Linked DNA regions of Homo sapiens. The protein of the gene in region 1 purifies or fractionates together with the protein of each later gene. This does not show direct contact. Each region holds a gene or a part of one and is shown in the gene's direction. Other genes may lie near its edges.

Region 1 (3,751 bases):
GCCTGTTTTCTCTCTAGCATTCCTCCCACCCCCAGTCCCCCAACTCTGGTCCACAGGGACCTTTTTTCCTGATTTACCTGGTAAGAAAGAAGGGAGTTTCTAGAATTAAAGCTGCCTATGCTGCTCTGCAAGTGGGGTTCATCCTCATTGCAAATTCTTACTTGAGGGAAAAAGACAGAATTGGAAAACTCACCCCATTTGGGGCACTTCTCCCAACTTTGACTCCCCTGCATAATTTACTTGTTTTTGTTTGTTTTACAGAGTCCAGTGAGCAGGAGGGGTGGGCCTTAGTGGGCTTAGCTGCCCCTCCAGAGCCAGGACTTCTGTGTATTAAATTTGTGTTATTGGACCTCATGTGTGGAGAGCCGAAACTCATTCTTCCCTATTTGTAACATACTGACATAACCAGTCTCTGTTATGTTTACTCATCCCCATTTCCATCCCCTCCCTCCTAGAGGAAACTGTATAAACAAGTGTGATGTTTGCACTTAAATATTTATGACTCCTTTAAAAAATAAGCTTTAAAATAAGCTGCTTTATGTGTGGATTTGTTTTTAGCTTGCTGAACTGACATTGTGCTAGAGATACTGTTTTGTTTCTTTTTTCATTCAACAATATACTTTTTAGTTATGGTCGTGTCTCTATGTGTAGAATTAGTTTATTGCTTCTAACAGCAGCACAGTATTCCATAGTAGGCATCTATCACATTTTGCAAGGATGGTCACTGTGTTACTTCCAACTCCCTGATGTCATAAGCAAACCTCTCTATGTGTAATTCTTATTAGCTCTACATCTAAAGTGTTACCTTGAATCTGCCAATTCAAGTTAACTTTTTTCCTTTTGTTTACTCTTTCTCCCATGGGCTGTCTCCATAGAGCAGCCAGAAGGATCTTTCTGAACCATAAATCTAAAGTAGGCCTCACAGGTATTTAGCTGGAAAAGGGAGGTTCTAGGAGTCCATTGACCACTCTTGGAGAACTGCTGCTCTGCTGCATCTTGAGCCACCTAGAAGAATGTCTGATGCTTTGTAGTTACAGAGTAATGTTTTTTAGCTGTCATACTGACTGGTCTTAGATTTTGGAATCTGGATTCAGCTGTATACCAGAAATCTCTGGCCAGGTTAATTCATGCAAGATAGCATCCATCCTTTAGCTGTGGAAGCTAAGTATCATGTTGCCTAAATAAGATAGGGCATCAGGTTTTAGGGAGAATGCTGAGGCAGAAGGAAGATGAGTCAGATTAGGGCCCACAGACTATTCCTTTCCCTTAGAGATACCCTTTAGTTGCCATCCCTCTGTCAGAGAAAGAGAGAGGCTGGGACATACCAGGTTACAAATCCAGGGAGTCTTCTGAAGGGTCATAGAACACCTTTATTGCTTCACCTACTTTCTTTTATTAGATGAATCTAGGAAGGAATGTCTACTTGGGCTGCAAAGTGATCATTTATGTGTACTGCTTACTCTTATTACAATGAAGTGTGATAATAATTGTACATGTTGTGTTAGATCAACTATTGTTATTGTTAGGTGATTACAACTTACATTCTGTTTTTATAGCAGGCTTCTTAGTTTTCTGCAGAGGTAACCAACTTGGTTATAATGTAAAAGAATGTATAGAAATTTTGCTCCAGACCTTCCTTTGTGGTATATATTTTTATGTTGTATTAGTAGCAGGACCCAGTGCTCCATAAAGGATAATAGTTTCCAGTACACTATCCCTCATGATGACTCCTTAAGTGGTTCATCGTCTGCATCTTCGTGTGAACCAGTGAGTGATTTTCCAGCATCTTTCCGAAAATCTACCTACTGGATGAAGATGAGAAGAATCAAGCCAGCTGCTACTTCTCATGTCGAAGGTATCAATATCAGTGTCTTATTCTGAAGACGGGCCACTTCCTAAAGTTATAGTTTGAGATTGTTATAAATACCTCTTAAAAGTATTAAATGGCGGCTGAGCGTGGTGGCTCACGCCTGTAATCCCAGCACTTTGGGAGGTCGAGGCGGGCGGATCACAAGGTCAGGAGATCGAGACCATCCTGGCTAACATGGTGAAACCCCGTCTCTACTAAAAATACAAAAAATTAGCGGGGCCTGGTGGTGGGCGCCTGTAGTCCCAGCTACTCAGGAGGCTGAGGCAGGAGAATGGCATGAACCTGGGAGGCAGAGGTTGCACTGAGCAGAGATCGCACCATTGCACTGTAGCCTGGGCGAAAGAGCGAGACTCCGTCTCAAAAAAAAAAAAAAAAGAGTATGAAATGCCACATATTTGTTTCTCATTAGTGATTTAAAAAAATTTAAGGTGTTAGGCAATTGCATCCTGTCCCATTAGCTTCATGAACTGCTATGTGATAGAGTGAAATTCTGCTAATCTTACTCCTCTAGATTATATTTAGCATTTGATTTTCCTCTTTGTAGTATTTGAATTCCCCTTTTCTTCTTCTTTTTTTTTTGAGACGGAGTTTCACTCTTCTTGCCCAGACTAGAGTGCAATGACTCGAGCTCAGGCTCACCGCACCCTCCTTCTCCTGGGTTCAAGCGATTCTCCTGCCTCAGCTTGTAATGCCAGCTGAGTAGCTGGGATTACAGGCATGTGCCACCACACCTGGCTAATTTTGTATTTTTAGCAGAGACGGGGTTTCTCCATGTTGGTCAGGCTGGTCTTGAACTCCTGACCTCAGGTAATCCGCCCACTTTGGCCAAAGTCTGTAATCTCAAAGTGCTGGGATTACAGATGTGAGTCACCATGGCTGGCCCCCCTTTTCTTCTAGTGTGATCCTCTGTTGATGATTTAGGGGCTGGTGTAAGGATTATTCAGGGGAGAATATTCTGGATCGTCACAATCTCAAGGGTCCTTGGTGGCTAGCCCTCTATCTTGAGCAATTCTTATCCTCTTGTTAGCCTCAAGTCAAGATTAAGCAAAACACATTGCTTGAATGCCCTTATTATTCATAAGGAACAATGGATGATTTGGAATAGATAACAATATAAAAAGAAAGGGAGAGTGGGTCAGTTAATGAGAAGTTACACCAACTTCTCTAAAAATGTCACAGACATTTCTCTGAGGCCTGTGTTCACTGATGATCTTTCCTTTTGATGGTCTTGTGAATGATGTTTTGAAGACAGGCCTAGATGTTCATTTACAAAGTGTGCTGAGTTTTTGTTTTGTTTTTGTATGGTACTTCAGGGTCAGGTGGAGTATCAGCCAAGGGGAAAAGGAAACCCAGGCAGGAAGAAGATGAAGACTATCGAGAATTTCCTCAGAAGAAGCATAAGCTTTATGGTAAGGCAGTAACTTTGCTACTTCTTTTTCCTTGGGTGACTGAGCTTTATTCTTTGAGGGTAAAGGAAAGAGAAGCCTTAGTTTGAGCCCTTCAGTGACCTCTGAGCCCTTTGAATTGTTTGGGAGGGAATGGCCTCCATCCTGCCTCATTATACCCTTTCATTCTGTCCTGACTTAGGCAGTCAGTCGGTTGAGGGACTGGGAAATAGGGTGTTGAAGAGGAGGAGAGGGAAGAGATTTTGGTATTAGCAAGGGTGACATGCTGGGCTTCAAGTTTCTGTCTTATGTCAGGGAGGAAGCAACGGCCTAAAACTCAGCCCAATCCCAAATCCCAGGCCCGTCGTATTCGGAAGGAACCACCAGTTTATGCAGCAGGTATGTTTTCTTTTGGAAGTTTTGAGGGATGTAGTTCTCACACTCTGATTTGTTGTTGGTGTTGTCTGTGAAGGAATGAGGTACTAAAGCATTTCTT
Region 2 (3,705 bases), on another chromosome or scaffold:
GCTGTTCTGCTGAGCTCCCAACTGGTCTTAAACGCCTGTTGGATATTTTCCACAGGCTTTCCTGAGTTTGTGTTAAAACTCAGCAAGTCCAAACCAGCTCTTCTTAACCTTTCTGCGTTGATGGCGTGTCCATTCTTAGAATCTCTGTTGTTGTTTTTTTCTTTCCTTCTCAACATTTTATTTTTATTTTTTTGGAGACAGGATCTCACTGTGTTCCTCAGGCTGGAGTGCAGTGGCACAGTCATAGCTTACTGTAACCTCAAACTCAGTCTCTCTAGTAGCTAGGACTACAGGCATGTGCCACCATGTCCAGCTAATTTTTGTATTTTCATAGAGACAGGGTCTCGCTGTGTTGCCTAGGCGGGTCTCAAACTCCTGGCCTCAAGTGATCCTCCTGCCTCAGCTTCCCAAAGTGCTGAGATTATAGGCATGGAACCACTGCACCAGACCCCTTCCCAAATTTTGAGGCACAACGTTTTGTCTCAAGTAAGCAGCACAGCCAGCCTATATCACCTTGAGCCTTTTTCAGCATTATAATCTACTTCCCTAATGCTTATTAGATTAAAATTTAAATTGATGTTTTTGATAGTCAAAAGTTGTTGAAATTAGCAGTTTCAACCTAATGCAGTGTAAACTTTTTGTACTTTATTATTTCAATATATGTGTTCGTTTTGTTTCCAACACCTAGCATGCTTTCCTACCACCTCTAGGGATTCAACTCTATCTTTCCTACCTCATAACTTTACCTAGTTTATAAAGCATCTTTTGATTCAGTTAAACACTATCTCAACTTCCTTTGAACCCTTAGAAACTTTGGGGGCATCCCTGTAGAGTACTTAAATTAGCATTTTATTCTAGTTTCTGTTAGTTGGTTATTTATATCCTGCAGTAAGTTGAAAGAGTCATACAGGCTTAGACTACTTTTGTATTTCTGTAATCCAAACTAGCTGTTTAACTTTATTCTGTGATATTTTGTCTGTTTGTAGTAGTTGAGGATAGTAGCTTGTAAAAGTCCATGATGCCTTAGTATGTGTAGGGCATATGGTTTTTTTCCCATAATACTTGTTATTGAATCAAAGACTGAAACAACTATCCACTAATATCTTATATTGTCAGATATACCATTACCATTTTTCACTCTTTATCATTTTTAGATTTACGTAATTTAGATTATGTTTAGAATGTTAAAAAAATCAAAGAGTCTATAATCACTGTAGTTATTAGTATCTTGCTCTATTACATTTGTCGATCTTTACCTTAAAAGTTTTAGACTTGCTACTGAAAGCCATTAAATTCAGACTTTCATAATTAGGAACAGAAGTAGGACTTTTCATTGTCTGGTCACGCAGACTTTCTGAGTTTGCTATGACTGAGGGTCTTTGGTTATGGAGGTTAGTGAAATGAGGTTAAAGTTTCTTCTTCCTGTCTTAATGGATTTTGAACATGTTTAGGTACTTGGTAAATATTTGATGATTGAGACTTCTCAGGCTGTGTTTTCCAAGAGAGTATTAATTATCCCTTTTCCTCAAAGAGGTAAATGAAAAGAAAACTGCTGAGGAAGAAGAGCTTGCTGAAGAAAAAAAGAAAGCCCTGAATGTTGTACAAAGTGTTTTGCAAATCAACTTAAGCAATTCTACAAACAGAGGATCAGTAGCTGCTAAGAAATTTAAGTATGTTTTATGTTCCATCCCATTCTACCATATCATCCTTTGCCATAAATGTCTTCTTGAACTCAATTTAAAACTAGGTCTCTTTTAATGGCCTGGGGAGGCAGCTGGCAATATGTATCAGACCCTTAAAAATATACTTGCCTTTGACCCAGTGATTCACTTCAAGGAACTAATCTTAAATTATTTCTGTATTTATACACTTAGATGTCATAGCAGCATCGCTTTCATTAGTGAAACAAATGGGAAACAGTTTAAATAGTAACTGTAAAAGTATTTATATAAACGTAACTGTTATGGAAATTTTCAGGCATGAAATTTAGAGAGACTAATGAAAGCCCTGTATACCATCATTACCTGTACACCAGGTAATGAAAGCCCTGTACACCATCACCTAGCTTTTACAGTCACCAACATGTGACCAGTGTTCTCTTCTATACCTTTATCCAACCCCTACTTTACACAATGAAATGTTTTATGCAAATCCCAGATAGTATATCATTTTATCTGTATGTATTTTAGTATGTTTAAAATCATTTTAAAAGCTAAAAAAATCCAGGAAATCTCAAAAGTAGGTAGTTTAAAATATTTTTTCGGCTGGGCATGGTGGCTCACACCTGTGATCCTAGCACTTTGGGAGGCTAAGGTGGGCGGATCACCTGAGATCAGGAGTTGGAGAGCAGCCTGGCCAACATGGTGAAACCCCGTCTCTACTAAAAATATAAAAATTAGCCGGGCATGGTGGCACATGCCTGTAATCCCAGCTACTTGGGAGGCTGAGGCAGGAGAATCGCTTGAACTTGGGAGGCGGAGGTTGCAGTGAGCCAAGATCACGCCATTGCACTCCAGCCTGGGCAACACAGCGAGACTCTGTCTCCAAGAAAAATCTATGTATATGTTATTTCTAGTAAGATCCTAGTTATCTTATCTGATGTTATATGGCTTCTTCTTGCTGCAAAATTAGAATCTTCCTAGTGCTGAATTATAATTTGCTACTTACTTTTTGTATTAGTGTTCTGTTTTTATCTCTTCCAACCTCCCTTCCTTTTTTTACATAGGGACATCATACATTATGATCCAACGAAGCAAGACCATGCCACTTACGAAAGAAAAAGAGATGATAAGCCAAAAGAAAGGTAAGTAGAGCTACTTCTTTTAGCAATAGGATCATGTAAATTAATCTCATTTCAGACAATTAAAAATGTAGGTAGGAACCAATATCCTACTCATTGGTCCCACTGTATTAAGATTGGTGGGGTAGGGGTAGTGCAGGTAGAGTTAGAAAGGAATTATTGATGTGGTGGAGGAGGTCTTACCTTTTAACAGAGGAATCTATAAATGATATGTACTCCTATCATTTATACCTTTTATTTGTATAAATGATGCCTTTTATTTGTACTAGTTTCTTGTGTCTTCTGTAGCTACCACAAACTTAGTTACTTAAAATCACAAAAATTATTTCTTTACAGTTCTGGAACCTAGAAGTCCCAAATTAAGATAGTGAACAGGTTATGTTCCTTCTAGAGGTTCAGGGAAACAAAGCTGTTTTATGCCTCTCCTAGTTTCTAGTGACTGCCACCAATCCTTTGGTGTTCCTTGGCTTGAGACTACATTACTCCCATTTCTGCCTCTATCTTCACATGGCCTCTTCTTTTCTGTCTCTCCTCTTTGTGCCTCTTATAAGGACACTTGTGATAGCATTCAGGGCCCACTTGGATAATCCTGGATGGGCTCCTCATCCTAGGACCCTTAACTTAATATCTCTGCAAGACCCCTTATCTAAATAATGTTAACATTCACAGGTTTCAGGAATTAGGACATGGACATAGCTTTTGGGGGGCAACCATTCAACCATCTAGTGTGGTAGGAGCTTCTGTTTCCTATAGATGTGCAGTCAGTTGGATAAACATGGCAAATATATGGAGCAACCAGTAGCAGCTTGGTTTAAATCCTTCATTTTCCAACTGCTAATAGCCACGAAAATCACAAAAGGCAGTGTGGTATCCTGAATTGAATCTTGAAACAACAGGACAATTTG
Region 3 (3,705 bases), on another chromosome or scaffold:
ATTTGTATTCATAAAAAATGTAAATTAAAATAAATATTAAGACTGAACATTTTTTACTTATGATATTTGTAGTAGTTTTTGAGAAAACTAATAATAGAGTTAAATGAATGGGGAACAGGCCTTGTCATACATATCCCTGCTGGTTCTATAGATTTACCCAACCTGGAGATCATTTTGATAGTATGAATCCAAAACTTTAAAAATAAACATATCATATAACCCAAGAGCTTTTCATTTTAGTTTTTTCTAATCAGAGATACATACAGAAATTTGTATATAAGAATGTTCACTTCTGCATATTTATAACAGCAGAAGGTTGGAAACTAAATGTCTGAAACAGAAAAATTTTTAAATAAGTTGTGCTATTACTTTAGAATTGATTATTATGTGAGCATTAAAAATGTGAACACTCTGGAATAACATGGAAGAAATGGAAATAATATTAAATGAATAAAGAAAAGGTTGTAAAATGATATGAATGGCATGATTTTAGTCTTCTAATAGGAAAATAACCTGGATTATACATAAAGACTAGAGCAATAACAATGTCTGGGGATTATTTCTGGTTGGTGAGAATAAGGCTGGTGTTTATTCCCCTGTACTTTCCCCATGCTTTCCAAATTTTCTGTAAGGACTGTGTATTGCCTTTTTAATAATTAAGTCTCATTGTTTGTCAAGTTGGGCCATATATGGTAAAGAAAATTATTTTTCATCTGTATTATTTGATCCCTTTAGGACACAGATATTATTGTATGGGATGTGATCAATGAAAGTGGTCTGTACCGTCTAAAGGGGCACAAGGATGCCATCACACAAGCATTGTTTCTACGAGAAAAGAACCTGCTAGTTACTAGGTAAAGAAATAATGGTTTAATTTCCAGTTATTTTCTAGGAAGAGAGAATTTGCTTTATTCCTTACTCATTTCTCTCATGAGCAGTGTGCTCATGCTTATGCATTAGTTTTCTCTCCTGTTCTCCTGCATTCCTTCTTTCCATTTCTTCTAAGTAGTATCGTAGAGCTATCCAAAGCTATATTATTTTTAAAATCATTTTTCTAATTTGTCATTCTTTTTTCTTGATATCAGTTTTTCTGTGTTTCTTAGCCTTTTGAAACTCATTATAGAATGAGCTTTGTCTACCTTCTAGATCTCTAGAAAGCCAGGAATCAGAATATGGAGCAGAGGGAAGATATGAATACCAGGTGTTAAATTCGGCTTGCCTTTTGAGGAGAGATGTACTGTACTTCATAGGCCTTCTGAACACCTATTAGGATGAACCATTTGAAATTTTTATTTGTGTACATAAAAAATCATCAAATATCAACAATTTTATATTGTTCAACCTAATATAATAATGAATATTCCTAAAGAATGGCCACCTAGGAAAAGCTGGGATACCAAGGTTTGCCAGGCATTAATTAGAGGAACCATAGTAATGACTCAGAAAAAGCTGTGAGCACTAAATGCTTTACCAATGGTGGATTTGTTTCTGTGGGATAGGATACAGGTAAATTAGTGTCTTGTTCAGATAACACAGGTTCTGTAAGAGAATGATTCTATAGTTCTAATAGAAAAAATATATATTACAGCTTAGGGAATATAAAGGCAAAGAAATAACACTGTAAGGTGGGGTTATATGGGACGGACTTTGTAAATCAGGTTTTTGAGCGGTGTTTTTTTCCAGTTTGCTCATGAAGGAGGATTATATTAGATTTATGTAGTGAGGAGGTAGGGAAGAGGTGTTTGAGCAGGAGTAGTAGAGGCCATTGGCTGCGAGAGGTTATATTTAGGGGGTTAAGAACAAATAAATAGGAAATTTTGAGACTGCTGCCAATGAGCCTGACTTTGATTCTACAGGGAACATTGAGCTAGTGCAAATATTAAAAATTAAGGTTATCTGACAGTTGCACATTGGATGGGATGAGAGAACAGCAATGGACAAAGAGACCAAATGAGAAGCTGTTAAAATAATCCAGGTAGTAGGACTTAAGTTCAGGTTAGTGTACAGAAATGGACTAGAGGAGTTAATACTTAGAAACTTCACAGAGGAGGCATTTTCAGGACAAGAGACTAACTGGACAGGAAGACAAGGGAGTGGGAGCGGTCTAAGATGTTTCCATGGTAGACTGTCTGAGGGGAATGCCAGTGCTGTGATGATGGAAATGATAGGAGGAAGGCCTGATGGATCAAATTCTGTATTCTTTGGTACTCTGCATCTAAAGTCATTCTTGTGCTTATAGGTGGAACATTTTATTTTCTGCACAGGAATAACTACAAGGAAAGTTAGGATTCTTTGCTTTTCAAAAGTAAGATCAGAGAGAATCGGAGCTTTAGACATTATTGAAGCATATGTTCCTTTTAAAGCAACAGTGAGTTTTGGATCTCCCTATTCGTTGAATGAGTTTTCCTAAACAGGCTATATATTTTTTTCCTGTTTCTTCTTTTAGTGGGAAAGATACCATGGTGAAATGGTGGGACCTTGATACTCAGCACTGCTTTAAAACAATGGTTGGCCACCGGACTGAGGTAAGTGTAGGGTCATGGGCCCAGGGAAATAATGGGAAGGCAAAAGGGAAAAGGTGGTGGTCTTCTCTTCCCCTTTCATGGCTCTTTGTTTTTAGTGCACACAGTAATTATCATATGCCATCTTGAGGGACAGTGAGGCTGGTATGATGGAAGCAATGCCAGCCATTGGAGCAGATACTGCTGCTCTGACATGTAGTAAAAATTGGCCTTGCGTGGTTTTTAATTCCTGAGTTTCATCATTTCTAAATAATAAGTGTCCACTTTTATGAATGTAGGGAAGTTTAATGATATTATATGTGCAGCACCTAGCTTATTGACAGGTAAGCAGCACGTGGTAGCTGTTAAAATAGTTACTTGAACAGAGATCTATTCAGTTGAGTTCAGGGACTGTTTTTTATATATCTTTGCATCCTCAGTGCTTTATTCATATCAGGCATTCAGGAAGGTAATACCTAGAATTAATGACAAGAAGATTAAATTCTTTGTTGATTTGCAACAATATTATTTTCATTATTTAATTCCCGGATACTTGAAGCTGAAAGTTATGCAATGGACATTAGTGGGGCACCTTTTATTTGCTAGACACTGCTAAAAGCAAAGAAATAGAAGACTTAAAATCATCATTTGAGTGGATTCTAGTTAAGATTTATGCTGAACAGCCATTATCTTAATTTGATTATACGAGGTTAGAGACAAACTGCTAGTATCACAAAAGTAACAATTTCACCGCAGGCCATTTTTTTCTCTGTAAAAGTGAGACTTCTCTTAGTGCATTTTGAAAGGGTTGTCGATATGCCTTTTCTTTGCCTTTAAATTGCTAGACATTTTACTACGGTGTAACAGACTTTTGGAATGTCATATTATGCTACCTGGAATCTCTTGAAAATCGTATTACTCAAATCTTTTTATATTCTATAGGTATGGGGGTTGGTTCTGTTGTCAGAAGAAAAGCGACTCATCACTGGGGCCTCAGACAGTGAACTGAGGGTATGGGACATAGCTTATCTGCAAGAGGTAATTACTTCTTAAAATCATGGGCAATATGTTTAGAAGTTTCATAAGCACCTTGGATTTAGAATCAGATGTAATTATTCAGTACTTCACATCATATTAGAAGGAATTCTATCACACCAATAACCTGCAACACTTAAAAAAGCTTTTCTTCCTTATATGCTCATTA
Region 4 (3,705 bases), on another chromosome or scaffold:
TGGAATAACTGATATGAAAAAGAGGTTTGTAAATTATATTCTATTATTTAGTGGAAAGTTATGATGTTACTATCATGTTGACTAAAAGGCAAAAATGCTGTATTTGGTAGATGATAATATTGTTGTATTAATTAACTGTGGCCACAATAGTGCAATCACAAAACTTGAGTGACATATGATAATGAACACTAATTTTTTGTTTTTGAGACTAGGGTCAGCTTGTTGGCTTGACGATCTGAGCCAGGTTTGGTTGATCTCACTTGGGTTTGCTTATGTGTCTGAGCAGATGGACTGTAGTTGGCTGGTCGGGGATGGCTATGTTCCCCACATGTGGGGTGGTTGTCTATCAGTGGGAGCATCGGTGCTCTCCCACATGTTCTGGCATCCTCCACACTAACACTTGTGCCACATTCTTTTGCCCAAAGCAAGTCAAAAAATGTGGAGAAGTCACTTCCATCTCTTCATGGTAGAAGTTGCAGATTCACATTGAAAAGGAGGGATGGAGATGTGGAAACATTTTTAGAGTTAGCATAATGATTGAAGCCAATTTTTTTTTTCTTTTTGAGATGGAGTCTCTCTCTGTCGCCAGGCTGGAGTGCAGTGGCACAGTCTCGGCTCACTGCAACCTCCGCCTCCTGGGTTCAAGTGATTCTCCTGCCTCAGCCTCCCAAGTAGCTGGGATTACAGGTGCCTGTCACCACACCCAGCTAATTTTTGTATTTTTTGTAAAGACGAGGTTTTACCATGTTGGCCAGGATGGTCTTGATCTCTTGACCTCATGATCCACCCGCCCCAGCCTCCCAAAGTGCTGGGATTACATGTGTGAGCCACCACGCCCAGCCAAAGCCAAATACTTTTAATCCATCTATTGGGAATGAGAATGTGGAAGGACATCAAAAGACCTATAACTGGGCTGGGCGTGGTGACTCATGCTTGTAATCCCAGCACTTTGAGAGACTGAGGTGGAAGGGTTGCTTGAGACCAGTAGTCTGAGAGCAGCCTGGGCAACATAGCAAGACCCCCATCTCTACAAAAATTAGTCTTTAAAATAATTAGCCAGCCTATTGGTATGTGCCTGTGTTCCCAGCTACTTGAGAGGCTGAGGTGGGAGCATCACTTGAGCCCAGAAGTTTGAGGGTGCAGTCAGCTGTGGTTGCATCACTACACTCTAGCCAGGGTGGCAGAGCAAGACCTTATCTTAGGGAAAAAAAAATGCATAACTGAATTTATTTTCTTTTTCCTTTGTAGACAACAAGGGAGGTGTCACAGTTTTCCATTTAGATCAACAACTTCAAGTTCTTACCATGGAAAATTCCGAGAAGACTGAAGTGGTTCTCCTTGCTTGTGGTTCATTCAATCCCATCACCAACATGCACCTCAGGTTGTTTGAGCTGGCCAAGGACTACATGAATGGAACAGGTAGGAGCAGTAACCAAAAGTGGCTTAAGACTAGAGAACCAGCCGGGTGCAGTGGCTCACACCTGCAATCCCAGCATTTTGGGAGGCTGAGACGGGCAGATCACAAGGTCAAGAGATCGAGACCATCCTAGCCAACATGGTAAAACCCTGTCTCTACTAAAAAATACGAAAATTCACTGTGCCTGTAGTCCTAGCTACTCGGGAGGCTGAGGCAGTAGAATCGCTTGAACCCGGGAGGCGGAGGTTGCAGTGAGCTGAGATTGCTGCACTGCACTCCAGCCTGGAGACAGAGCAAGACACCATCTCAAAAAAAAAAAAAAATACTAGAGAACCGGCATGACTGGGTCTGTTTCAGAATACACATTTCATTGACTGGGCACAAACATGCTGTCCTGCTCCCTTGTACAGTGAATTCTTAGCCAAAAAAGAGGGTGAAGTATGAGGGAAGAATTGAGCATCTGGCTATGGCCTGTAGAATAGAAAATACAGCCAGGTACAGTGGCTCACACCTGTAATCCCAGTGCTTTGGGAGGCCGAGGTGGGAGGATCACTTGAGGCCAGGAGTTTGAGACCAACCTGGGAAACAGAGAGAGACCTCATCTCTACAAAAAAAATTGTAAACATTAGCCAGGTATGGTGGCATGTGCCTGTGGTCCCAGCTACTCAGGAGACTGAAGTAGGAGGATTGCTTGAGCCCGGGAGGTCTAGGCTACCGTGAGCCATGATTGCACCTTTGCCCACCAGCCTGGACATCAGAGCAAGACCCTGACCACCCCTCCCCAAAAAAAGGAATTTGATTCTGTCATGCCTGTGCTTAATCTTCTTTAGGAGTTTCCCATTACTTAAGGCAAAAAGCGAAAGCTTGTACTTTAGCATACATAAAACCTCTAGGATCAGGCACAGCTTTTTAAAAGTTTTCTTTTTTCTTTCTTTCTTTCTTTTTTTTGAGATGGACTTCACTCTTGTTGCCCAGGCTGGAGTGCAGTGGCGCGATCTCGGCTCACTGCAACCTCCACCTCCTGGGTTCAAGCAATTCTCCTGCCTCACCCTCCTGAGTAGCTGGGATTACAGGAATGTGCCACCACGCCCGGCTAATTTTTTATATTTTTAGTAGCGACGGGGTTTCTCCATGTTGGTCAGGCTGGTCTCAAACTCCCAACCTCAGGCTTCCCAAAGTGCTGGGATCACAGGCATGAGCTACCATACCCAGCTAAAAGTTTTCATAAACAATGCATGAGGCTGGGCGTGGTGGCTTACTCCTGGAATCCCAGCACTTTGGGAGGCCAAGGCAGGCAGATCACAAGGTCAGGAGATTGAGACCATCCTGGCTAACACGGTGAAACCCCATCTCTACTAAAAATACAAAAAAATTAGCCGGGCATGGTGGCGGGTGCCTGTAGTCCCAGCTACTTGGGAGGCTGAGGCAGGAGGATGGCGTGAACCTGGGAGGCGGAGCTTGCAGTGAGCCAAGATGTCGCCACTGCACTCCAGCCTGGGTGACAGAGCGAGACTCCATCTCAAAAAAAAAAAAAAAAAAAAAAAAATGCATGAATAGGCTGGGCGTGGTGGCACATACCTGTAATCCCAGCACTTCGAGAGGCAGAAGGGGCAGATTACCTGAGGTCAGGAGTTTGAGATCAGCCTGGCCAATGTGGCGAAACCTTGACTCTACAGAGTCTCGCTCTGTCGCCCAGGCTGGAGTGCAGTGGCACAGTCTTGGCTCACTGCAACCTCCACCTCCTGGATTCAAGCGATTCTTTTGCCTCAGCCTCCCCTGTAACTGGGATTACAGGCACACAGCACCATGCCCGGCCCATTTTTGTATTTTTAGTAGAAATGGGGTTTCACCATGTTGACCAGGCTGCTCTTGAACTCCTGTTCTCAAGTGATCCTCCCACGTCGGCCTCCCAAAGTGCTGGAATTACAGGCATGAGCCACCATAACATAGCATAACCATAACAGTTTCATGTGTATCCTTCCACTCTTCTTTGTATGAATTTATATGCAAACATTTGTGTGTATACACAGATTTTTTTTTTTTTTTGTGGAAATGGTTCTCACTCTGTCACCCTGGCTGGGCAGGCTGGAGTACAGTGGCATGATCACAGCTCACTGCAGCCTTTACCTCCCGGACTCAAGTGAGCTGCCTGCCTCAGGCTCCTGAGTAGCTGTGACTACAGGCATGCCACCACATCTGGCTAATTTTTTTTTTTTTTTGGAGACAGAGTCTTGCTCTGTCGCTCAGGCTGGAGTGCAGTGGCATGATCTCAGCTCACTGCAAACTCC

What was found. Proteins that work in one complex are often made in the same cells at the same time.
Region 2: the proteins of ZNF512 (region 1) and NOL8 purify together in Homo sapiens (affinity purification with mass spectrometry; 2 studies listed by BioGRID and IntAct, with this or other methods). This does not show direct contact.
Region 3: the proteins of ZNF512 (region 1) and WDR3 purify together in Homo sapiens (affinity purification with mass spectrometry; 2 studies listed by BioGRID and IntAct, with this or other methods). This does not show direct contact.
Region 4: the proteins of ZNF512 (region 1) and NMNAT1 purify together in Homo sapiens (affinity purification with mass spectrometry; 2 studies listed by BioGRID and IntAct, with this or other methods). This does not show direct contact.

Annotation. Positions count from the first base shown.
Region 1 is NC_000002.12:27,596,400-27,600,150, forward strand, and holds part of ZNF512 (zinc finger protein 512), read left to right. Parts: intron 1-1,667; coding exon 1,668-1,855; intron 1,856-3,183; coding exon 3,184-3,279; intron 3,280-3,570; coding exon 3,571-3,654; intron 3,655-3,751. UniProt on the Homo sapiens protein: May be involved in transcriptional regulation.
Region 2 is NC_000009.12:92,304,851-92,308,555, reverse strand, and holds part of NOL8 (nucleolar protein 8), read left to right. Parts: intron 1-1,531; coding exon 1,532-1,670; intron 1,671-2,725; coding exon 2,726-2,803; coding exon of another isoform or gene 2,804-2,807; exon of another isoform or gene 2,808-2,808; intron 2,809-3,705. UniProt on the Homo sapiens protein: Plays an essential role in the survival of diffuse-type gastric cancer cells. Acts as a nucleolar anchoring protein for DDX47. May be involved in regulation of gene expression at the post-transcriptional level or in ribosome biogenesis in cancer cells.
Region 3 is NC_000001.11:117,936,034-117,939,738, forward strand, and holds part of WDR3 (WD repeat-containing protein 3), read left to right. Parts: intron 1-735; coding exon 736-854; intron 855-2,446; coding exon 2,447-2,525; intron 2,526-3,443; coding exon 3,444-3,539; intron 3,540-3,705. UniProt on the Homo sapiens protein: Part of the small subunit (SSU) processome, first precursor of the small eukaryotic ribosomal subunit.
Region 4 is NC_000001.11:9,970,770-9,974,474, forward strand, and holds part of NMNAT1 (nicotinamide/nicotinic acid mononucleotide adenylyltransferase 1), read left to right. Parts: intron 1-1,248; 5' UTR 1,249-1,304; coding exon 1,305-1,419; intron 1,420-3,705.